Homo sapiens: one gene and its partners. The protein of the gene in region 5 interacts with the protein of the main gene of each other region in a biochemical or structural test. Each region holds a gene or a part of one and is shown on either strand. Other genes may lie near its edges.

Region 1 (3,500 bases), on a different chromosome or scaffold from region 5:
CTCTCCAGTAGCTGGGATTACAGGCACACACCACCATACCCAGCTAATTTTTGTACTTTTGATAGACACGGGGTTTCACCACATTGGCCAGGCTGGTCTCAAACTCCTGGCCTCAAGTGATCCGTCCGCCCCAGCCTCCCAAAGTGCTGGGATTACAGGCATGAACCACCATGCCCAGCCAATTTAATGTTATTTAGTATAACAAAGAAAAAAAAGAAATCTAAATGCCCAACAAAAGGTGAATAAGTAAATTATGATATAGCCATACTTTAGGAATAATGTAGAAAGGACCTTAAAGTATATTTTGGGCCAGGCGCGGTGGCTCACACCTGTAATCTCAACACTGAGAGGCCGAGACAGGTGGTCAGGAGTTCAGGACCAGCCTGGCCAAGATGGTGAAACCCCATCTCTACTAAAAATACAAAAAAATTAGCCAGGCGTAGTGGTGGGCACCTGTAATCCCAGCTACTTGGGAGGCTGAGGCAGAGAATTGCTGGAGCCCAGGAAGTGGAGGTTGCAGTGAGCTGAGATTGTGCCACTGCACTCCAACCTGGGTGACAGAGCGAGATTCCACCTCAAAAAAAAAAAAAAAGTATATTTTGTAGGAAATATAGACGTATCTCACACATTAATTCATAAAGACTAGAATGAAACACCAGTAATAAGTGTTTATCTCTAGATAATAGAATTACATGTGATTTTATTTTCTCCATAGTCCTTTGCATTTTCCTATTTTTCTACATGGAGCATGTATCACTTTTTTTAATAAAACAAAAAGCTTATATCTTTAAAAAGTTACTCTCTTCTCGTCTATGCTCCTAAAACATTTTGTACTTTGTTGACAGCCCCTGGCACACGCTGCTCTGTACTCTACCTAGTCAATACGTGTCTGCAGTTTCTTGAGTTCTGCTTGTATCCTTCCCCAGCTCCCAGCACTACACTTTGCACAGAGGAGGTGCTCGATGAACTGCACCAAAGCACTGCTGGGGTGAGAAGATGGTCACAGAAGGCAGAGGCCTCCAGACTCTTAACAGAACCCACCAACAACCATCCCTTGTACGTGAAGGGTCAGGTCAGACCCATAACAGAAAAGGACCTACTTCCTTCTACTACTTTGCTAAGAAACCTTTAGTTTTTTCTAGATATCCTGTTAATTATTAGAATTTTCTGGCCAGGTGCAGTGCAGCAGCTTAGGCTTATAATCGCAGCATTTTGGAAGGCCAAGATGGGAGAATCACTTGAGCCCAGGAGTTCAAGACCAGCCTGGGCAACATAGAAAGATCCCATCTCTATGCCTCAGGGATATCAATAACAAAACATAAAAGAAGAAATACAACATAAAAAAGAATATAACAAATTTTAAAAAGAGAGAGGCTCTGATCTCTATAAAAATAAAAGAAAAAAAGAATTTTCCTTGAGTTGCTTTTGTGTCGTTTGAATTAATTAATTTTATTTATTTATTTATTTATTTATTTATTTATTTATTTTGAGACAGAGTTTTTGCTCTCGTCACCCAGGGTGGAAAGCAATGGCATGATCTCAGCTCACTGGAATCTCTGCCTTCTGGGTTCAAGCAATTCTCCTGCCTCAGCCTCCCAAGTAGCTAGAATTATAGGCACCCACCACCATGCCCGGCTAATTTTTGTATTTTTGGTAGAAACAGGGTTTCACCATGTTGGCCAGGCTGGTCTTGAACTCCTGACCTCAGGTGATCCACCCGCCTCAGCCTCCCAAAGTGCTGGGATTATAGGCGTAAGCCACTGCACCCGGCCGATTTATTTATTTTTAACTTTAATTTTAGGCTCAGGGGTACATATGCAGGTTTGTTATATAGATGAATTACATGTCGTCGGGGTTTGGTGTAAAGATTATTTCATTACCCTGCTAATAAGCAAAGTACCCAAAAGGTAGTTTTTCTATCCTCACCCTCCTCCCATCCTCTAAACTCAAGTAGGCCCTGGTGTCTGTTGTTCATTTAGGGAAAAAAAAAAAAAAGAAGAAAGAGGAGGAGGGGGAAAAGGAGGGAAAACAGTCAACCAGTCTCTCTCTGGTTTTCTCTAAGAATTCATCCAAACTTCCCTCTGGGCATATGAGACTCACAAGACCCCCCAGTTGCCAGGGAGCTGGAGCCCTGCAATAGGAAGGATGAGTCAGGGCCTCCTCACCCCACCAGCTACAGCATACCCAGTTTAACTTCATGTTTTCCCCCTAATCTCTAGCACAGTGCTCAGAACATAGTAAACACCAATGTTTGTTGGATTAACAAGTGAATTTCACACTGCAATACAATTAGAACCTGGACCTAGAGCTTCCACTCTGGTTTTCCCCTTCCTCCCCACCACTCACCCTGTAGAGATTGAAGTAACTCCCATAAGGGTTGGCCTCCTCGTAAAGATCAAGAGGCTCCATGGGCCAGGGAAGTTCCACAGGGAAGGGCCTTTCCGGGGTTTGGGGTAGAACAGTTTAGAAATGTGTGAGCAAGAGGAAGGCTCTGTGAGGCCAACAACAGGCTGGGCTATGTCTAAATAGCCATCCTTGGCTGCACTTTCAGTGATGTCGATCAGCTGGCTCGGGTCCTCTGAGGATGGCAGAAAGTGGTAATGGCAGGGTAAGACAGGCTCGCTTTCACTCCCTGGCTCCCTCCCGCCCTCTCTGCAGAATTTCCGGTTCTACCTGCTCAGCTCCCCCGCCACCCCATCTTCCCAGTGCAAGGGAAGGTCGAGCCTTCCAGCGCAGGACTTACTTCAGGGGCCCAGCACCCACTTCCTGCCAGCCAGCTGCTTCCTCCTGTTCCGCCCCTACATTGTGAAACAAATGACGCAGCCGGACTTTAGACAGAAACCCTGCTTATCAGGGAGTCCAGGCAGATGAACTCTGGGTTCTCAATGCCAGGAAAACCCTAGTGTGTATCCACTCTCACAGTATGTGTTCACTCATACTGCTTTCCACAACCGTCACACAATAGTGAAACCTCATCCTCAATTATGTTGGACGCAAGGTCATCCAGGTCTTTCCTGAATCTCTGAAACAGAAACTGGTTTGAGTTTAGAGATCTCCAGGGTCTCTAGTCAAACCTAACAGATGTGATAAACAAGTCTCATTATTATCACATAAAATGTGCATGGCATTTAAATCTATTTTTGGGTGTGGTGGAAACGTGTGTTGCCCATTTATGTGTCCACAGAACAAGTGCAAATTGAACTCAGCTGACTTGGAGGGGGGTGGGATGTATCCTAACAGCCAAGGCCACAATCCCTAGAAACCAATATGGGCCAGGTGTAGTGACTCATACCTGTCATTCAGCATTTTGAAAGGCCAAGGCAAAAGGATCCCTTAAAGCCAAGAATTCAAGACCAGCCTGTACAACAGATGAGACCCTGTCTGTACTAAAAAAATAAAAAATTAGCCAGGTATGGCTCACCACTCACACTTGCCTATAGCCTCAGCTATTCAGGAGGCTAAGACTGGAGGATTGCTTGAACCCAGGAGGTCAAGGCTGC
Region 2 (3,500 bases), on a different chromosome or scaffold from region 5:
GGAGTTCGAGACCAGCCTGGCCAACATGGTGAAACCCTGTCTCTACTAAAAATACAACAATTAACCAAGCGTGGTGGCGGGTGCCTGTAATCCCAGCTACTCGGGAGGCTGAGGCAGGAGAATTGCTTGAACCTGAGAGGTGGAGGTTGCAGTGAGCCAAGATTGCACCACTGCACTGCAGCCTGGGCAACGAGTGAGACTCCATCTCAAAAGAAAAAAAAACTATTAATGAATAATTAATAGTTACTAATACCTAATAGGTGTTAATCACTTAATAGTTATTAAGTAATAACTATTAATGTTGAAAGGGTAGATTTGGGAATTCCTAGCCAAATTAATTTAAACTTATGCTATTAACTCATAACATGAGCTCTTCTTAGACTATAGAGAACCACCTCCCTCCCAAAATACAAAAAAAGCCTTTATAAGTACCCAAGTCTGAATCAGCACTGTCCTGTAGACAATAATGCAAGCCACATACATAATTTTAAATTTTCTTGTAGCCACATTTTTAAAAATTTTTAAATAGATGAATTTAATTTAATAATATATCTTATTTAATACAATATATCCAAATATTATCATTTAACGTGATATTTTTAAAATAGTTATTTTACACTCTGTTTCCTATGTCTTTGAAATCCACTTGAAATAACACACCCCCCCAATATACTACTATATAATGATAATATTTTTTTTTTTGAGGTGGAGTCTTGCTCTGTCGCCCAGACTGGAGTACAGTGGCGTGATCTCAGCTCACTGCAACCTCTGCCTCCCATGTTCAAGCGATTCTCCTGCCTCAGCCTCCCAAGTAACTGCAATTACAGGCGCACCCACTAATTTTTGTATTTTTAGTAGAGACGGGGTTTCAGTATGTTGGCCATGCTGGTCTCAAACTCCTGACCTCAGGTGATCCACCCACCCTGGCCTTCCAAAGTGCTGGGATTACAGGCATGAGCCACTGCACCTGGCCTGGGTTTTTTAATTTAAATTAAACTTACTTTAATTCAAAATTCAGTTCCTCAGTCACACTGGCCACATTTCATGTGCTCAGTACATACTACATGTAAGTAGTGGCCACTGTATTGGACAGATCAAGTCTGGATCCCCCATGCATTTTACCATGGCACACATTTAGAAAAAGCAAAGGTAGATGACAAAGGCCTTCACTTCTCTTACCTTTGAGCAGCTGTTCCTTCAACCACTTTACATACATAAACCCCAGAACTCACATCAGGGAAATCTGGATAATGCATTTTCAATTCTTCACTAAGGCTAAGAGAAGTGAGAAGATTAGGAAACAATGAATTAGTCTCCTGAGCCCTGGTAAAAGCCTGAAATTCTTAGTAGGTACTCTGTTCTGCTCAAGGTTCACAAGGGCCGAGGAAGATTCCATCAAGCTAATCACAGTCATTCTCCTCTCAGTTCGGGCTGAGCCTCTATCCCAAAGCCTAGAACCACTGGACATTATAAAATACAGCCACAATGAAATAAACTATGTATAGTTAGTGCTGATGCAGGCAGAGGCAGATACATACCCTGAGACAGATAGGGCCTATGGTCACAAGAGTACCTGGCTGTGGTCCAAGTGGCTCAGCTTTTCTGTTAAGACTGTGCAGCTATGGTTTTTGCCTCTGAAAAACAACCCAGACATATTCAAACACATGCTTACGGCACAGTGAGGGACAGCATTTGCAGACCCAGATATTTCTTATTTGAAAACGCCTTTCCTGGAAAGGAAAGTTATGATGTGTTACAACAAAACCTCTTTCCTGTTAGCGCAGCTTAAAAGACACCCATGTCCCAGGATCTCTTTGCCATCACAGCTGTCCTTTCAGGTTACCTGGATGAAACACAGGCTTCAGAGAACCTTTGTCATTAGCACTTACACTCCTCCCACCCACCTCCCACCTCCAGCCCCTGGGTTTCATTTCCACATTAGCTCAATCCAAATACTTCTGGGTACAACTCATGCTTGGTTTGTGCCTAGTCCCCCAATATTGCTGCTCAAATCACCATTATAGGAGCTGAGTACAAATGAGTGACCCAGTAGTCTACAGGATTCAAATGGCTGTCTCCGGGCCAGGCATGGTGGTTCATGCCTGTAATCCCAGCACTTTGGGAGGCCGAGGCAAGCGGATCACTGGAGGTCAGGAGTTCAAGACCAGCCTGGCCAACATAGTGAAACCCCGTCTCTACTGAAAATACGAAAATGAGCTGGGCGTGGCAGTGGGTGCCTGTAGTCCCAGCTACTCGGAAGGCTGAGGCAGGAGAATCGCTTGAACCCAGGAGGCAGAGGTTGCAGTAAACCAAGATCACGCCACTGCACTCCAACCTGGATGACGAGCAAAATTCTGTCTCAAAAACAAAAACAAAAAAATTGCTGTCACCACAAAAGATTGAGTGTTCCTGAAAAGCACAAGACGAAACCAAAAAAAAAAAAATCCCAACTTGCTTTACCTTTCATCTGGTGCTCATGGTATTCTGCCAAGAACTGCCTAACTCGATCTGAAGGAATTGCAAAGGAGATTCCATCAGTCACCCTCAATGAATTGACGCCAATCACATCACCATCCTGGCAAGGGAGGGGACATCATTCAGTCATGAAGTTTTGCAAACTGATGAGTGCAAGACCAGAACAAGCAGAAGAAGGAGTGAAGCTAGTTACTTAGGGTCAGAAAACAGGGCCGAGAGGAACTTTGTACTTCAAAAGAGAGCAACGGATGTTCCTTTATAGGGCAAATAGTGTGATGGGACAGCAAAGGGTAACTGCACATGCGCAGAAGTTACCTTCTTTTCATGGCCAAAGGATCAAGGATGCTGAGGACTTTTTAAAATCTTGAGCTCATGGCTGGGCAGAGTGGCTCACGCCTGTAATCCCAGCACTTTGGGAGGCCGAGGCGGGCGGATCACGAGGTCAGGAGATCGAGACCATCCTGGCTAACATGGTGAAACCCCATCTCTACTAAAAATATAAAAAATTAGCCGGGCCTGGTGGCGGGTGCCTGTAGTCCCAGCTACTCGGGAGGCTGAGGCAGGAGAATGGCGTGAACCCGGGAGGCGGAGCTTGCAGTGAGCCGAGATCGCGCCACTGCACTCCGGCCTGGGCGACCTAGCGAGACTCCGTCTCAAAAAAAAAAAAAAAAAAAAAAAAAAAAAAAAAACTTAAGCTCATTTTTTTCCTTTAGTAAGTTACATTGACTTTAAAAGTGAGCCACAGTTTGTATTTTGACAAAGGTAGAAGGACAAGGAGCATTTGCCTTTTTATTATTTAAAAGTAAAAATAAACATGGAAAAGGTAAAAAGCTGTGGGATTGTCAGTAACACTGCACTGAGAATTAGCAAAATTGACCTTAGGGAACAAAGCTCTGCTAAGCTAAAGGTATGAGGTAGAAAATATTTTCCTCTTTATGTACCTCATCTTCCTTTAGCCTTTTAGGTAATGGGAAAGGATAAAAAAGAGATTTCTTTTTTTTTTTCTTTTCTTTTTGAGACGGAGT
Region 3 (2,465 bases), on a different chromosome or scaffold from region 5:
GGCCGGGTGCAGTGGCTCACACCTGTAATCCCAGCACTTTGGGAGGCCGAGGCTGGAGTTCCAGACCAGCCTGACCAACATGGAGAAACCCTGTCTGTACTAAAAATACAAAATCAGCCAGGCATGGTGGTGCACGCCTGTAATCCTAGCTACTCAGGAGGCTGAGACAGGAGAATCGTTTGAACCTGGGAGGCGGAGGTTGTGGTGAGCCGAGATCACGCCATCGCACTCCAGCCTGGGCAACAAAAGCGAAACTCCATCTCAAAAAAAAAAAAAAAAAAGCCTGGGTGCAGTGGCTCATGCCTGTAATCCCAGCACTTTGGGAGGCCAAGGCGGGTGGATTACAAGGTCAGGAGTTCAAGACCAGCCTGACCAATGGTGAAACCCCGTCTCTACTAAAAATACAAAAATTAGCCGGGCATGGTGGCAGGTGCCTGTAATCCCAACTACTCAGGAGGCTGAGGCAGGAGAATCGCTTGAACCTGGGAGGTGGAGGTTGCAGTGAGCCAAGATTGCGCCATTGCACTCCAGCCTAGGCGACAGAGCAAGACTGCGTCTCAAAAAAAAAAAAAAAAAAAAAATGCTGCAAGTTACTCAGTGCCACGTGGGTCTCAGCTACCCCAGGTCTGAGTCCCAGAAACCAGTCTGACCAGGGAAGCCGTGTTTGTTGACGTCCTGGTAGAAAACAGGCTCCCAGTGTGTGTCTGCTCTGTGCTGGCATCCCCTCCGGAGACCCTTCCCAGGCCTGCCCCCCATGTCCGACGCACCTGGGCCCCCTGATGAGCCGAGATTCTCCCACGATCCCTCGGGCTCTGGGACTCATCTGCCTGCACGGGCTCCGAGGACCGGGCCAGGGCTGGAGCCGGGGGCTCATCATCCACATCCGTGTAGGGCCCCCCCTCGCCGTCTGTGTAGCCCTCGCCATCCGTGTACGCGCCGCCCTCGCCGTCCGTCTCGTAGTCGCTGTTAACGCGGCTGTCGCAGCTGAGGTCAGCGGAGCTGTCGGCCAGGCCGTGGTGAGGGAGGTCTAGGTTGTCCTCCAAGGAGCCATCCAGCTGTGGGGTGGGTGTGGATGCTGCGGCTGGCCCTGGCCAGGACCCCAGCTGCCACCCACGACATCCCCCCACCTTCAAACTCTGGTCCCAAATCAAGGCGAGGAGCCTGGAGCCTGGAGCCTCAGTGGAGGCTTCTCTGTTGACTCCAGGATGGGTTGTATCCATTGACCCTTCACCTGAGAGGCTCAGCCCCCAAATCCAAGCTGAGCCCCAAACCTTGACTCCAGCCCCAAGAGAAGACTCCATTCTCTCTCTCTTTTTTATGAGAAGGAGTCTCTGTTGCCAGGCTGGAGTGCTGTGGCGCAATCTCTGCTCACTGCAACCTCTGCCTCCCGGGTTCAAGTGATTCTCCTGCCTCAGCCTCCTGAGTAGCTGGGACCATGGGCGTGAGCTCCCGTGCCCCACTGACTCCATTCTCAAAACAGCTCCTCCAGGCTGGGCGCGGTGGCTCAGGCCTGTAATCCCAGCACTTTGGGAAGCTGAGGCAGGTGGATCGCCTGAGGTCAGGAGTTTGAGCCCAGCCTGGCCAACATGGTGAAACCTCGTCTCTGCTAAAAATACAAAAATTAGCTGGGCCTGGTAGCGCTCGCCTGTAGTCCCAGCTACTCGGGAGGCTGAGGCAGGAGAATCACTTGAACCCGGGAGGCGGAGGTTGCAGCAAGCTGAGATCACACCACTGTACTCCAGCCTGGGTGACATGAGACTCCATCTCAAATCAAACAACAAAAAACAGCTCCTCCAATCTCATCTCACCCAAGTTCCAGTCCAACACCCTTGTCTCAGGTCCCATCTTGACTCTGGCCACAGTCCTGATCCCTGACCAAGCCCTAACTCCCGACAGAGGCCCCAAACCCCAGCTGGGCCTGCACAGCGTCTGTGGGGCCTCCCTGCCCGACCCACCCACACCGCGGCAGTACCTGATCTTCCGCCGTCCAGATGGGCCGCGTCTGCTGCTCTCGAATGATGGCCTTGAGCTCCTGGTACCAGGTGTCACTCGTGCCATTCAGAGGGATGGTGGCTGCAGGGAGGGGACGTCAGTGTGTGCAGGAGACTCAGGCTGGGGCCCACCCGCCTACCCTGGGACACCCACCCCCCAACCTGTGAAGAGGTGGCTGCTGTGTTTTCGCAGCTTCTGGGCTTGTGCGTAGAGGCGACGGGTGCTGCGGCGGGAGGCAGGCGCCAGCCACTGGCGCAGTGCCTTGAGGGCCGGCCGGCTCTCGGGGATGAAGAAGACCACAATGGGGTAGTACTGCACATAGTTGAGGCGCTCGATGGCGGAGGGGGTCACATCCAGGAGCGCATGCTTGTCCTGGGCCAGGCCGGCGGACGTTGGGGTGAGGGGGATTGCAGCAGGGTAAACAGAGAGAGAAAGATAGAAAGATGAAGAGTCTGAGGTCAGAGTGGACCCCA
Region 4 (3,500 bases), on a different chromosome or scaffold from region 5:
AGGGGCAGTGCCCACCCAAGCCCATCACAGACTGGGCCTTCCCAAGGACAGGAAGAGAAGCTCAGGTAAGGAATGCCTGGGCAGGGGCAAAGGGGCAAGGAGGGAAGGGCCCTGGAAACCTTAAACCTGGCTCTAGGAAGACCGATGAGGGCAAGAGTGTCCACTCCAGCTGCGGCTGGAAGGACCTCTAGACATTTCATTCGGGAGTCAGATACATTATGTCACATCCTTAAGACAGAAGGCTGCTTCTCTGAGCAATAGCTACCAGCTGTTCCCACTTCTCTGAGCCAGGCGCTAAGCTGGGCACAGGGTACCTGTGGGCCTTACTGATCCTGCTCCCCAACCTCCAGAGATAGGACCTATCATTACACCCTGTTCGCAGATGAGAAAACTGAATGTCAAGGCCTCATGTCAAGGTATTTAACTCTGGCTAGAAAAATGGTGGAGCTGGGACTGGAAGCCAGGTCTGACTCAAAGCCGTCCATCCCAGCTCCTCAGCTACATGCCTCCCTGTGCAGGTGGCGTCAACTATCCAGGAAGCCAGGTGTGTGTGAGATCTGCACAGAGCTCTTTCTGGAAGGACATGACATCTGTCAAACCATTAACCTCAGATACTTCTCTGGGTGCCGAGGTTTCAACAAAGTTTTACTCTTTTCTTTGAACTTCTGTGAACGCTTCAGTATGTGCACCTTTACAAAACAACAAAGCCATTACAAAAAGGAAAATCTTTTCTTGGTCATTTGAAATGTTCTCTACCTTGATCTGCATGTTGGTTACATGGATGTGTATTATTTATCAAAACTCACTGAACTGCATGCACATTCAAGATCTATGCATTTTACTGTATGTAAATTCATACCTCAATTTTTAAAAAAGAAAGAAAAAATAAATAAGGAGGAAGCCCAGAGGGCTGAGCAGGGAAGCAGAGTATTCACCAGAGGAACCAGAATGTGCTGAAAGGTGTGGCCCAGGCACCTTCATGGGAGTGTTGGTTTAAGTACAAGTTGCCTGCAGGGCAGGGGCAGCATCAGGGAAGGCCCTCAGGAGGGAGGCCAGGTCCTCAGCAAACATACCCAGTGGGCGCAGACACAGGCCCTGCCCTGACGAGCAGGTGACTTCATACAAGCCCCTTTCCCTCTCTGGCCCTCAGTGGGAGTGTCCTAGCATTAAGCTCAAGAACCTAGGGTGCCAGGAACTTGACTAGAGGGTAAGGACTGAGAGGAGCGGCTGACAGAGTGTTCAGGGCTGGAGGGGACAGGGAGGGGCTGGGGCCTCCACACAGAGCCCTAGAGCAGGCACATAGCGGAGCGGTGGATGCGTGCCTCTGGGGCCCCACACACCCTTGTGATGGGGGTCTGTGTACTGTGCACCTCTAAGTACTGTCTGAGCGCAGTGCAGGTTTGCTTTTGTCAGAATGGGGAAGAGGGCCCCACAAATTCTCCTAGCAGTTCCCATGAGGTAGGAACCCGAAAACCCCGGAAGTCAGTTCCTAGGATGTGTTCATCTGGCACTTCAGCAGCCTAAGGCACTTGGCCACACATGGTTGGTGAGAAAGGAAAAGAGGGTAGCTGCAGATCGAAAGGGCACCGGCAGACAAGCAGGTACCATGGTCATGGGGCCTGTAGCCTCCACCAGCCTGAGGGGTACTGGCGCCATCATAAGGTGAAGCCAGAGAAGAAAGCCAGGTAAAAAAGGACAGGAGGTCCTGCCTGCCCAAGGAAGGAGGAAGAAATAGCACGTGCAGGAGAAGGAGCCACCAGCACCTGCAGAGCCTGCCCTGAATGCTGAGGTTGGGATGGGCCACCTGGACTGGGTATTGAATGGAGGGCCCTGTGGGGAGAGAGCACAGAAACAGGTGCATGCTGCCATCACCAGACCCCCACTGTGCCCTGCCTCGGCACAGGACCCGCAGCAACCAGGGGAAGCTCCTCATGCTTCCTCTGGGTCACCCACAGGCAAAGTCTTTCCAGGTGTGCTCACAAACCATTCTTCCAGCCCCCAGAACCATGCAGGAACCCGTCACTCAGCTTCGGTGCATCAAGAAGGCCTTCTCTGCAAATCCACCTCCTCACACAAGCAACTTTCCAGACCCCCTGGGGGGTGGCTGATTCTTCTCTGGAAGCACAGCTCTACACACACATGCACACAGCTCTGTGTTCTGCTGCACACACACTCATGCTTGCTGAACCACACAGCCAAGAGGCTGACCAGGCTGCCCACGCTCTTGGCTCTCATGCCTGGCTCTGGCAGCCTGATTTTAACTATGGACTTGGACTGAGGTTCCCACCCCTGAGCCTCCCACTTTGCCCAGGATGCGGCCCCTCGAAATGGAAGAGATGTAGCCACTAGGAGGAAGACTCTGGAGTCAAGAGGCTGCTCCAGTGTGGCCTGGTATTGGTGCTCTGGGGAATAATCCAATCAGCCAGATTCAGACCTACCCCAGCCAGACACTCTACCAGCTTCCCTGCCCCTGCAAGTCCACGTGTTGCCAGCAAAAAGCTCTCGCCCTCTCCAGGTCAACAGCAGAAACTCTAGGCTACCTTGCCCTGCTCCTGCCCAGTCATCTCAAGGAACAGGTTTGGCAAGACTGGAGTGTTCAATGAAGAAGCATGAGATATGTCAACAAAGAGCTGGTGGTAGGCAGCTCTGCTCTGTCTCACTGTCTGCCTGTCACCAGTCCCAAGGGCCTGCGAGAAACCCCGATGCCTGCGGCCAGATCTGGCAGGTAAGCCGGGGCAACCCCAGGGAATCCAACTGCTTCCCCATAGTTCCCTGGGGGAGCAGGCTGGAGGAGCTGCCCAGCTCTGAATGGAGAGGTATTTTACTCTGGCCAGCCATGGGGCAGGGAGCAGCAGGAGGGATATCGGGACAGGAGGAGGGATAACAACAGAGGGCACCCTCTCTGGCCACTGACTGGCGTCTGACCCCTTGAGCTACTTGGGCAGTTCCCTTCAGCCCCCTTGGGTTTGGCTCTGCTACTCCTAGGGCTGATGACCCCACAAGACACACAGGTGGGCTGTGCTGGCCAGGCTTGGACAAGGCAGGAGAAAGTAGAGGATGGGAGGCCGGGAGACACTGAAGGACCTGTGGTCCTGCTAGTCAAGCCCCCATAGGCCCAGGGCACAGGGCCCAAGGCAGTCAGGGAAATGGTCTGAGTGTCCCCTCCTGATGACCAAGAGCAGGGAGGTAGCCTACTGAGCCCAGGAAAGCAAAACCTGAGTGGTCATCAAGAGAAAGAGCTGGAATAGGGGGTACCAAATCTGGCCATTCCACTGAGGGCTGCTCAGGGCTGGAGCCTCAGTTGTACAGACCCTCCAGGAGACACAGGTACCCAGGACTGGGCCGGTCTGGCCTGCTGGGGCCTGGGCAGTTGGGCACATGACTGGAGGTTTCATGGACTGCTCATCCTGTGAGGTTCAGGTGAGCACATGGAGGATTGCCGCCATGGGGAGGACGCCAAGAGATGCGGAAGGGAGGGCAGGGCAAAGGAAGGGAAACTT
Region 5 (3,500 bases):
TGCCCTGGGCCGTGGCCCACCTTCCACGTGCTCCTCGGTGGGTGTGACCCGAAGCCGCTTGAAGTGTTCATCTGTCTCGGGGTCCACGACCAGCAGCCGGGCCTCGTCCTCCCGTGCCTTGATGCTGGCCACCACCTCAGCATGGCGCAGTCCCTCCACATTCTGCCCGTTCACCTGCCGCCACCAGCATGTATCAGCCCCGCCATGGGCCCAGACAGCCCCCAACGCCGCGTGGCCAGGTGTGGCATCAAATATTCATCACAGCCACCGCCCACCGAGGCAGCAGGAGGCGCACCAGCTCAGGTTCCCAGCGTCTCCCTCCTCCCTGCAAGGACCCAGGGCCCCAGTGTGGACAGGTGCGGGGCACTCGGCACCCCGCAGCCCTGGTGGGCCGGTACCTCAATGAGCCGGTCCTGGGCGCGGAGGCCAGAGCGGGCGGCAGGTGAGCCCGGGTCCACAGAGCGGATGTACTGGCCGGGCCGGGACTTGTCACTATGCAGGTTGAACCCATAGCCCTGAGGTCCCTTTCGCAGGTGGCAGAGCCGAGGGCGCAGCTCCCTCAGGGGCCCACTGACATCCTGCAGGCCCAACGGACAGGGTCAGTCTCTTGCTCCAGCCTCCCGCCTCCAGAGGCCACTCCCCGGTGGTGCCGCCACTGCCCAAACTCGGTACCGTGCCCCCCACGGGCAGGCCCAGGTCTCAGTGGCAAACACTCCGGGCACCCAGGCTGCCTGTGACAGAGCTTTAGCTGTGGGAACTTGGGCAAAGCCTGTTTTCAAACCCAGAAGCCTCCCCGACGGGCCCAGCCGCCTTCCCGGGTTGCTGGGAGAATTCCTTTGGCTCGAGGCCAGCGTGGCGCACAGGCAGGGTGGGAGGAAGCACCAGGTGGGATGAACTGTCGCCGTTGGCCTCCTGGGGCGGTTGTCCCTGAGGGCTCTGCCTGTGCGTCCCCCTGCCCCGGGCTCTCCTCCAGAGCGTGGGGCAGGCGCTCCTAGGCCAGCAGTTTTGTTTTCTCTCCAGAGGCCTCCGTGGGGCTGGCTGCGGTGGCGGCTCTGTTTGCTTTCACATTCCAGGAAAATGAGCCGCCCCACCCCCGTGGGCCCAGCAAGCAGGGGCTGGGGCAGGAGCTTAGTGTGGACAGGGCACAGAGGGCCTCCTGGTGCCCGGAAGGACCCCCCGCTACCATCCCAGGCCCTGCCCCATGTTACCTCTGGCATCCTGCGGTAGGGCTCTGGGCCAGGGGACCATGCAGGCAAGGCCAGGCCCAATGACCACCTCCCAGCCAGGGGGTGGGCCAGGGTGCGGCGGCGGTGGCCAGCGGCTGCCCGTGCTCAGTTAAACATGGCGGTGGCCGGAGCAGGCAGGAGGCAGCTCAGGTTTCCAGGGAGCGCCAAGCTTGAGGGCGTGCGCAGGGGAGACTGTGCAGGCGGGCTGGGGGCTGCCAGGGCCCTTCCCTCACCTCCTACCTCCCTGTGTGTCCCTGAGGGACCACAGGCCAGGCCAGGCCAGGGCTGGGGCGGCATGGCAAGGGGGCGCTCAGACCTCAGGAGGGCAGGTCTCCAGGCCTCAGACACCCCCAACCCCTCCAGCCACCCACCTTCAAGCTCGCTCCAAACCCCAATGGACCAGAAACGGCCATGTCAGCGGGGGGGACCGCCCCGCCAAGGGAGCAAGGGGGTCCTTCTCCACACAGCTAGTGCTCTGTCCCCTGGGCTCAGGACCTGCCCTTGGTCTGGAACACCCTTCTCCTGTCCAGCCTGCCAGATGCCTCATCTGAAGCCTCCTGCCCACCCTCTGAACCCTCTCTGCATGGCCACCACCCAGCCCGTCACACCAGAAACTCCAGGGACAAGCCTGTGGCTCCCTGGCCCCACAGGGGCTCAGCTGGGCCACATGGGCTGAATTAGAGGGTGCAAGACCCCCAAAATCTCCAGGGCCCCACCACATAGACTCACTCCTCCCCCAGACACACCTGGTGGCACAGGCGTGGGGCTTCAAGGCTGACCCTGACACCTGCCCACCAAAGTGCCCCTCAGGGATGCAGTCACAGCACGGCCCCCAGGCTGGCCTGGGACGCAGGGAAGGCGTGGGGACAGGAGTCCAGTTCGGGAGGGGAAGTGGAGCACAGCCCCCAGGCTGGCCTGGGACGGAGGGAAGGCGTGGGGACAGGAGCCCAGTTCGGGAGGGGAGGTGGAGCACGGCCCCCAGGCTGGCCTGGGACGGAGGGAAGGCGTGGGGACAGGAGTCCAGTTCGGGAGGGGAGGTGGAGCACGGCCCCCAGGCTGGCCTGGGACGGAGGGAAGGCGTGGGGACAGGAGCCCAGTTCGGGAGGGGAGGTGGAGCACGGCCCCCAGGCTGGCCTGGGACGGAGGGAAGGCGTGGGGACAGGAGTCCAGTTCGGGAGGGGAGGTGGAGCACGGCCCCCAGGCTGGCCTGGGACGGAGGGAAGGCGTGGGGACAGGAGTCCAGTTCGGGAGGGGAGGTGGAGCACGGCCCCCAGGCTGGCCTGGGACGGAGGGAAGGCGTGGGGACAGGAGTCCAGTTCGGGAGGGGAGGTGGAGCACGGCCCCCAGGCTGGCCTGGGACGCAGGGAAGGCGTGGGGACAGGAGCCCAATTCAGTGGAGGAGGTGGGAGCGTGATATGGGCCCAGTCCGCAAAGACACATCACACAGCCACAGACACAAGACGTCCACACACACCTGCAAACACGCACAGCAGCCCACACATGCGGCCAGCCCCACAGTGCTGGCCCGGCAGCCCTTCCCACGCCTGCACAGCGGCCTGCGGGGCAGGGTTTCTCAGGGCACCAGACAGGAAGCAGGATCTGGTGGGTGTCTGGGGCCCTGAGGCCAGGCCAAGGACCCCTCAGTGTTCTCAGGGTCATTCTGGCCACCCCTCTGCCTCTGTCCAGAAGCAGCCGTCTTTCACTCTACAAGGCAAGAAGTTCTGCCTATCAAACCTAAACCCCTTCATTGTCAGCAGGGTCCCAGTGGCGCCAGGCACAGCACTAAAACCTCAGGTGGAGGGGCTGCAATGGAGGGGCCAGGGTGGGCTGCTGGCAGCACATGGGCTCGTGGGGAAGGGGGGCCCAGAGAGCCGAGGAGCTCGGGCGGCGTTCATAGCTCACATTCCTCCTCCCTGCCCTGGCTCAGCACACACTTCCTGCCGCCTCCCGCCAGGCCCTCGGGCTCCCACGGGCTCCAGGCTCCCTCCCTGCCGGCGGCCAGCACAGAGCTGGACCATCCCTGGTCCCCCAGCCATGCCTGTGTCCGGACAAAGAGGCTGGCATGGGGGTACCCTGGGCACCCCCCCAGATGGTGACGCACCAGCCCTGGCAGAGAAAGGCCTTCATTGTTGCTCAGCGACCAGCCTGCTTACATCAAGGTCCCGGAGTCCCCTCCTTCCACCCCGGGAGGCTGAGCGGCTGCCGGTTCCTCCTAGCCCTCCCTTCCTCCCACCCCACCTGACCTGTACCAGCCTCTGGGGTGGGCTCCGTGGA
Region 6 (3,500 bases), on a different chromosome or scaffold from region 5:
TTTCTGAATCTTCCAACATTTCTGAAATAAAGTATGTATTACCTTCATTTATTTGCTTATTTATTTAATAATTAGAGGGGGAAGTTACACATACACACACACACACCCACACACACACACACATATATTGAGAGAGAGAGGGAAAAAGAATGGATGAATGAATGATGGCAAAATTCTAGGAGACAGCTCCAAATGGCCTCTGATCTAACTCCCTCCTCCCATGTTCACCATCCTTCTCCACTTCTGATTGCTGAGTGAAACCCACTCACTCTTCTCTCTAAATCCTCTACTAGAGAAAATGTTTTCTGGGCAGGACGTGGAGGCTCACACCTGTAATCCCAGCACTTTGGGAGGCCGAGTTGAGGCAAGGAGTTTGAGACCAGCCTGGGCAACCTAGCAAGACCCTGTCTCTACAAAAAATTTAGAAATTAGTTGGGCATGGTGGCACGCGCCTATAGTCCCAGCTACTTAGGAGGCTGAGGTGGGAGGATCGCTTGAGCCCAGGAGTTCAAGGCTGCAGTGAGCTCTGCTAGCACCACTGCAATCCAGCCTGGGTGAGAGAGTGAGACCCTGTCTCTAAAAATAAAAAAAAAAAAAACAAATAAAATAAAAAAACAGAAAACAAAAAAAATGTTTTCTTCCTTGGAAATGTCACATCTCCTCCTTGGACAGGTGCTAAAGGAACATACTACATCGCACTGACTTTCTTACCAGAGCAGCCACAGCGGCACAAACCTGATGGGCAGCCAATTTGTCTTGTGTTCAGTTTGCTTTTTTTCTTTGACTCTATTTCCCTCTTTCTTTTCTGCTTAAATAATCTTAACATCTGTACCATTTTTAGTAGCTGCTCTTTGGTGATAGGCAGGGCTCGACATCAGTAGAATAAGCAAAAAGAGCAAGGTGACACCTTTCATCTGGCATTCAAGGCCCTCATATATTGGTTCCATATATTGGAACCTCATATATTGGGACCTTCCCAACCCATCAATGACCTCATCTCAATTGTTCTTTTTTTTTTTTTTTTTTTTTCAAGACAGAGTCTTGCTCTGTCACTCAGGCTGGAGTGCAGTGGTGCGATCTTAGCTCACTGCAACCTCTACCTCCCAGGTTCAAGTAATTCTCCTGCCTCAGCCTCCTGAGTGGCTGGGATTACAGGTGTGCACCACCATGCCTGCTAATTTTTGTATTTTTAGTAGAGATGGGGTTTCCCCATGTTGGCCAGGCTGGTCTGGAACTCCTGGCCTCATGGGATCCACCTGCCTCAGCCTCACAAAGTGCTGGGATTACAGGTGTGAGCCAACGTACCCAGCCCTCAATTGTTCCCTAAAGAAAATAAATGTTCCTGCCTCTGCGCCTTTGGTATTCTCATTGCTAGGTAAGCCCTCCTCTATCTCTATTGTGTCACCTTCTCCATGCCTTCAAGACCCACCTTAAAATAAAAATACTACCTCCTCCAGGAAGCTAGCTAGAGGTGGGCTCTCCCTCCTTTGAGCTCTGACTGCACTTTTGGCCTCTCTGATGTCACTGTTCACTTTCTGTCTTATGTTAGTTATCTGGGTGCTACAAGTCAGCCTCTCCCACACACAGGGAGCTCTCTCAGAACAGGGAGTATGGCAGATTCCCCTCCATTGTCCTTGGCACCCATCATGGGGCTTGGCACACACTAAGCGCTAAGTGTTGACTGGCTGGCTGGTTGTTTGGTCGAGTGATAAATGAATGCATGAATAGAGGAAAAGGTACCTAAAATAATTAAATGAGTCCTCATGGGCATAAATAAGAGAGGGAAAGAAGGAGCGAGGAAAGGACAAGTGAATTACTGAATGAATGAATGAATGAATCAGAGTAAAGCCTTGTAAGAGTCAGGACTTTAATCTATCATGTTCACTGCTTGAACCCCAGGACCTAGAAACCTGGTACACAGTAGAAGCTCAGTACAATGGGCAAATGACGATTTGAGTGAATTAATAAGTGAATATCCTGGGAACATCCAGCTAGGGCAGAAAGTGACAGCATCACAAATTAATTTCCAAGGAACAGATGGGATCTCCTGCATCCTTCCCCTTACCCCCCACTTTCCCTTTCCAGGTGAAGGGCAGGAAAAGCTGACAGGGAAGTCACCTCTCAGGTTCTTGATGAAGTCATCTAGTTTCATCTTTCGTTCAGCTTTGACGCTGGGACTGTACATGTCGGTATTGAGGAGGATGATGGCAAAAGCAAGGATGAAGATGGTGTCTGGGTTCCGGAACTGGCGCACGAGGGCTGGGTTACAGACACAGTACCGCTGGCTGCAGGGCAGGAGGGGTCAAAGCCAGACTCAGGAACCAGCCATCTCTGCCTACCCACCATCCACCCAGTCTGGCACCAGCAACCCTTTCCTGCAAGAAATACTTTCTTGATCTCTGGGTCTGTCCTCTTCAGAGCTTCCCCTAGACCAGCATGTAAAAATCACAATCGCTACCTTTTACAGAGCTCTTCCAGGGGATTTATGTACGTTGTTTCACGTAATCCTATCATAATCCTGCAAGGTAGCTATTGGCAGTCCCATTTTACAGATGAAGTGACTAAGACTCAAAGTGGCGAGGTAACTTGCCCAAGGTAATAGAGCTGGTAAATGGTGAAGCCAGGATGAAAACCCAGTTATTTCTGACTGCAAAGCAAATCCTTCCCCCATTGTGGGAAACAAGTTCTCAGCAACTCCTGTTTCTCTTCTAAATACCCTAAAGTGGCAGAGCCAGGATTTAGACCCCAGTCTATCTGATCTCCAAAGCATTTATAGTACAGTAAAATGGTTAAGGGCATGGATGGATCATGGACTCAGACACATACGAGTTCAAATCCTGTTTCTACCACTTATTCACTGTATGAGCCTGGGCAAGTTACTTAACCTCTCTAAACTTCTGATTTCTCATCTGTAAAATGGGAATAATAACAGAAGTGCCTACTTTATGGGGTGGTTGTGATTATTCGGTGAAATAATCATGTAAAGTGCTCAGCTCTGCACCTGATACCTAGTAAGTGCTCCGTGAATGTTAGCTGTTATTGCTGATGTTGTTGTCACTTATCGAATGCCCATGTCCCAGAGGCTGAGCTAGATACTTTATATGCACTACCTCTGATCCTCACAATTGCCTTGCAAGATAGGATTTATCATCTCTGTTTTATGGTGAAGAAAGTATGAGGCTCAGAGAAGTGACTTATAAACACATACTACGTCGATGCCCACAGGAGGGAGGGGCAGCTTCGCGAGTGGGAGGTAGGCACACCTGAAGGCTTCGATGAGTCGCTCCACTTTCTGGGCCTCACCCTGAACCCGGATATGGGACTGGAACTTCCGGAGCGCATCATCCAGATCCATGGAGGAGAAGTCCATCTCATCCACCACACAGCTAAGGAGCAAAGAAGGAGGTGTGGCGCTTTCAATTCCTCTGCAGAAAACCTCTGACCCACCTGGACCTGCTCAAATGGACCAACACCCCCACTGATAGACTCTCAAATTCAGG
Region 7 (3,500 bases), on a different chromosome or scaffold from region 5:
GGGCACAGCGGCTCACGCCTGTAATCTCAGCACCTCGGGAGGCCAAGGCAGGCGGATCACAAGATCAAGAGATCAAGACCATCCTGGCCAACATGGTGAAACCACGTCTCTACTAAAAATACAAAAATTAGCTGGGTGTGGTGGCACGCACCTGTAGTCCCAGCTACTCAGGAGGCTGAGGGAGGAGAATCACTTGAACCTGGGAGGCAGAGGTTGCAGTGAGCCAAGATCGCGCCACTGCACTCCAGGCAGGGCGACAGAGCAAGACTCCGTCTCAAAAAAAAAAAAAAAAAAAAAGAGACCAAGAGTAACCCCTCTGAAATCCATTTCGACTCCTGCTAAAACACCTCAAAGAACCAGTCTGGGGCATCACTGTGTTAAGGGCCAAATATGCCATGGACGCCCCTTCCTCAGGAAGCTGTTAAAACCATAGATCCTTAACTGGAATGAGCTAAGTTTATTCCTCCCTGAAGGCAAGAGATTGGATAATGCCCTTTCAAGGACTTGCAGATCCTTAAGAATTTGTGATTTTTTAAATCCTCCTGTGGATATCTAGGCATTTCAGGCTGCTTCTTAGACTTAAAAGACAACAAAACTTCCCCCATCTCCTTGCTATTATTTCATTCAGAGCTCGCAACAATTGTGTGTGCAAAATTAATCCTCTGTGCTGTGAAGTCGGTTCCCCCAATGCTGCTTCTCCAAAACCTCTTCAGGCCTCCTACCTAGAGGGCTTGATGAGCCCCAGAAACACTGTATATAAAAACATATAATCCAAGAATAACTTTGTCAACCAGGTGTTCAATGCTATCTGGTTTCATTCAATGGCTTCATAAAGAGAGTTGAGAATCTTAAGTTTCTGATTTTCTGGAAGTTCATAGACCACTCATTATTCACTCAGAACGCATTCTGGTAGGGAATGCATGCATGGAGCAGCCAGAACTTTCAGAATGGAGACTGTTTGCTGGCCCCATCAAGAGTGTGGGGTGAACACACTACTGGCATTGGAGAGAAGCCACGGCCGGGGGTAGGCCTCTTCCTGGAGCTGGAGAGGCTTAAAAGACAAATGTGTCTTCTCCGCATGCTTAGTGTCTTAACAAACCATCTCTCGGCTCAGCCGCCTTATCAGACCACAAAAGGCCTCTTCAACTATTAAGTTTTCAAATTGTAAATGCTCCCAGTGTCTTCTTGAACACATTTGTAAATAGAAGGCAGAACTCTTTAGCTCTCAGACAATCAGACTGAATCAGATGACCTACCTGGCTTCAAACACTCCCCGCTAGAACCCATGGGAAATGTATTCTTTTCCAATTCCATCTTTTCTCTATTTCTAAAGTATGGATAATAGGAGATCAAGATTGTCAAATTTCTAGATACCATAAAAAGATCTATCCTTTTATATGCAACCGATGCATAGGTCCAAATCTAGACATAGACCATCCGGTTGGAAAATAAGGAATAATTTCAGAAAATTTTCCAGATAATTCTATACTTTAATTTCCTTAAAAAACATTCTTCAATGCCTATAATCCCAGCACTTTGGGAGGCTGAGGTGGGTGGATCGCTTGAGCCCAGGAGTTTGATACCAGCCTGGGCAACATGGTAAAACCCCATCTCTACAAAAAATTTTTAAAAAATAATAAATTAGCCAGGTGCGGTGGTGTCTGTAGTCCCAGCTTCCCAGCTACTTGGGAGGCTGAGGTGGAAGGATCACTGGAGCCGGGGAGGTCAAGGCTGCTGTGAGCCGTGGTCATGCCACTGCAGCCTGGGTGACAGAGTGAGACCCTGTCTCAAAAAAAAAAAAAATTATTCACATTTTCCCCAATTTCATTTAATTTGGCACATATCTACTTAGTGTTTAGTAAGTCAAATGCTCCTTTTCTTTCCCGCTTCACTAATAAGTGAGACTGTTTTTTCATCTTTTCAACTATAATCAAAGACCCATTAATAAAACCAAGGGGGATTGCAGATTTTTAATTCTTCCTCAGCCACCTGCATCTTGGCCAACACCACTGCTATTGAAAGACAAGAGTTCCCCAGATCAAGCAACTGTGTTTTGTGACTCTAGTTCTGGTTGTCTAATGGGGCAAGTTCTCTGTTTTTCTGGGCCTTAGCTTCCTCAAATGCAGGTGTTACCGAGTGTGAGTGCATGATGCCCTTCCAAACCATGGAGGACAGAGGAGACTGTCCAGCCTCTTCCTGCCTTGCACCTGGTAACTGGATCTTTGCAAAAGAGAGGGACATTAAATTTAGACGCAGCACTGCAACAAGCCAATGGATTAAAAGGCAGAAATCTTGAAGGATTTGTCAAGGTGCAAACAGGGAGACCCAACTGCTCAGAGTAGTCCAAAACTTTTCATCCACAGCTGAAAGAAAGCTTCAGGCAAGTCTGCTAAAAACTCCTGCCTTCTCCATTCCACTGGGCTCTCACTGACTTTGGTGAGAGGTTTATGCATTTCTGGACACACTGTTCGAAAGGACCCCCTATACAGCAGATGCGGTCATGGAGGGCCTTCCAAACACACCTTAGTACCTCTTTCGATTCCTCCTAAGAACAACCCTGTGAAGTAGCGACTGCATCAATTTTATACATGAGCAAATGGAGGCTTCAACATTTCTAATCATCTGGCCCAGCAGGAAGTTCTCTGCACTGCTAGGATTCCAGCCAAAGCCTCTGACCCCAACTCAGGAGTCCTTCCTTTCCCTCCTGGCTGCCTCCACTGGTGCCAGGTGCCGGGTTTGCTTCCCCTGGCAGGCAGCAGTACCGCAGCCCTTTCCTCCAGGCCCCAGCTTCACGAAGTGACCCCAGGTCTCAGCAAATGCCTCCCCTGTTTTCCTCATTCTCTCCAGGGCCTCACCAACCTCTGCTTCCCTCTGGCCTTCCAGAGAAGGCAGATGCCAGGATTGTTCTTTCCCTGCACTTGCTCACCTCTTCCAGCCCAAACACCCCTGATCTAGCTTCTCTACTCTCTCCCACATCTCTTTTGTTTACCAAACATGCCTGGGAGGGAGAATGGAGGGACTCTCATGAATAAACCCTCCTTCAATGCTACAACCTCCTCAAAATACTGTGGATTATTTTCAAACAGCACACTTCTGGATCCAGTGTCTATACCTGCAGTTTCACTGTCTTGGCAATCATTGTCTCCTTCTTCCCTTGCAGCCTGGCTTCATGAACACCCCTTGCAGACACTGTTCTATCAGTGGCCTTTTCCTATCATCCTTCTGGGGATGGGCGTCTCTGAGACATCCCTGCCTCTCCACTTGTCTGCTAACCTCTCTCATGGGCTTGTCTGCATAGCTCTTCCTGTCCTTGAAACTCAACTCTGACCTCAGCATCCTCCCTGGTGCTGCGGGGATGTGTCTGAGGGCAGAAGAAAGAAGCTGAAAACTTGAGTCTCTAAGTCTGTCTTCTTAAAGAGATTCAGCCTCTCTTTGGATTTGCTCCTGACCTTTTGTGGGTTCATCTTTGGAATTTGTCCCCTTGTGGATGGTGCAGTAGG

Evidence for each region.
Region 1: the proteins of NHERF2 (region 5) and F11R interact in a test that uses a peptide from one of them, tested with the Homo sapiens proteins (one large-scale study listed by IntAct).
Region 2: the proteins of NHERF2 (region 5) and HTRA4 interact in a test that uses a peptide from one of them, tested with the Homo sapiens proteins (one large-scale study listed by IntAct).
Region 3: the proteins of NHERF2 (region 5) and TJP3 interact in a test that uses a peptide from one of them, tested with the Homo sapiens proteins (one large-scale study listed by IntAct).
Region 4: the proteins of NHERF2 (region 5) and TBC1D10A form a complex in vitro, tested with the Homo sapiens proteins (2 studies listed by IntAct, with this or other methods).
Region 6: the proteins of NHERF2 (region 5) and IQSEC2 interact in a test that uses a peptide from one of them, tested with the Homo sapiens proteins (one large-scale study listed by IntAct).
Region 7: the proteins of NHERF2 (region 5) and PDZD2 interact in a test that uses a peptide from one of them, tested with the Homo sapiens proteins (one large-scale study listed by IntAct).

Annotation. Positions count from the first base shown.
Region 1 is NC_000001.11:161,011,153-161,014,652, forward strand, and holds part of F11R (junctional adhesion molecule A isoform 1 precursor), read right to left. Parts: intron 1-3,500. UniProt on the Homo sapiens protein: Seems to play a role in epithelial tight junction formation. Appears early in primordial forms of cell junctions and recruits PARD3.
Region 2 is NC_000008.11:38,980,728-38,984,227, reverse strand, and holds part of HTRA4 (serine protease HTRA4 precursor), read right to left. Parts: intron 2,576-3,500; coding exon 2,461-2,575; intron 1,731-2,460; coding exon 1,673-1,730; intron 1,635-1,672; coding exon of another isoform or gene 1,606-1,634; exon of another isoform or gene 1,283-1,605; intron 1,276-1,282; coding exon 1,180-1,275; intron 1-1,179. UniProt on the Homo sapiens protein: Serine protease.
Region 3 is NC_000019.10:3,746,384-3,748,848, reverse strand, and holds part of TJP3 (tight junction protein ZO-3), read right to left. Parts: intron 2,365-2,465; coding exon 2,154-2,364; intron 2,074-2,153; coding exon 1,973-2,073; intron 1,056-1,972; coding exon 768-1,055; intron 1-767. UniProt on the Homo sapiens protein: TJP1, TJP2, and TJP3 are closely related scaffolding proteins that link tight junction (TJ) transmembrane proteins such as claudins, junctional adhesion molecules, and occludin to the actin cytoskeleton.
Region 4 is NC_000022.11:30,295,942-30,299,441, forward strand, and holds part of TBC1D10A (TBC1 domain family member 10A), read right to left. Parts: intron 1-3,500.
Region 5 is NC_000016.10:2,033,402-2,036,901, reverse strand, and holds part of NHERF2 (Na(+)/H(+) exchange regulatory cofactor NHE-RF2), read right to left. Parts: coding exon of another isoform or gene 3,470-3,500; intron 3,314-3,469; exon of another isoform or gene 1,218-3,313; coding exon of another isoform or gene 1,209-1,217; intron 579-1,208; coding exon 399-578; intron 175-398; coding exon 21-174; intron 1-20.
Region 6 is NC_000023.11:53,244,851-53,248,350, forward strand, and holds part of IQSEC2 (IQ motif and SEC7 domain-containing protein 2), read right to left. Parts: intron 3,387-3,500; coding exon 3,264-3,386; intron 2,286-3,263; coding exon 2,119-2,285; intron 1-2,118. UniProt on the Homo sapiens protein: Is a guanine nucleotide exchange factor for the ARF GTP-binding proteins.
Region 7 is NC_000005.10:31,642,131-31,645,630, reverse strand, and holds part of PDZD2 (PDZ domain-containing protein 2), read right to left. Parts: intron 1-3,500.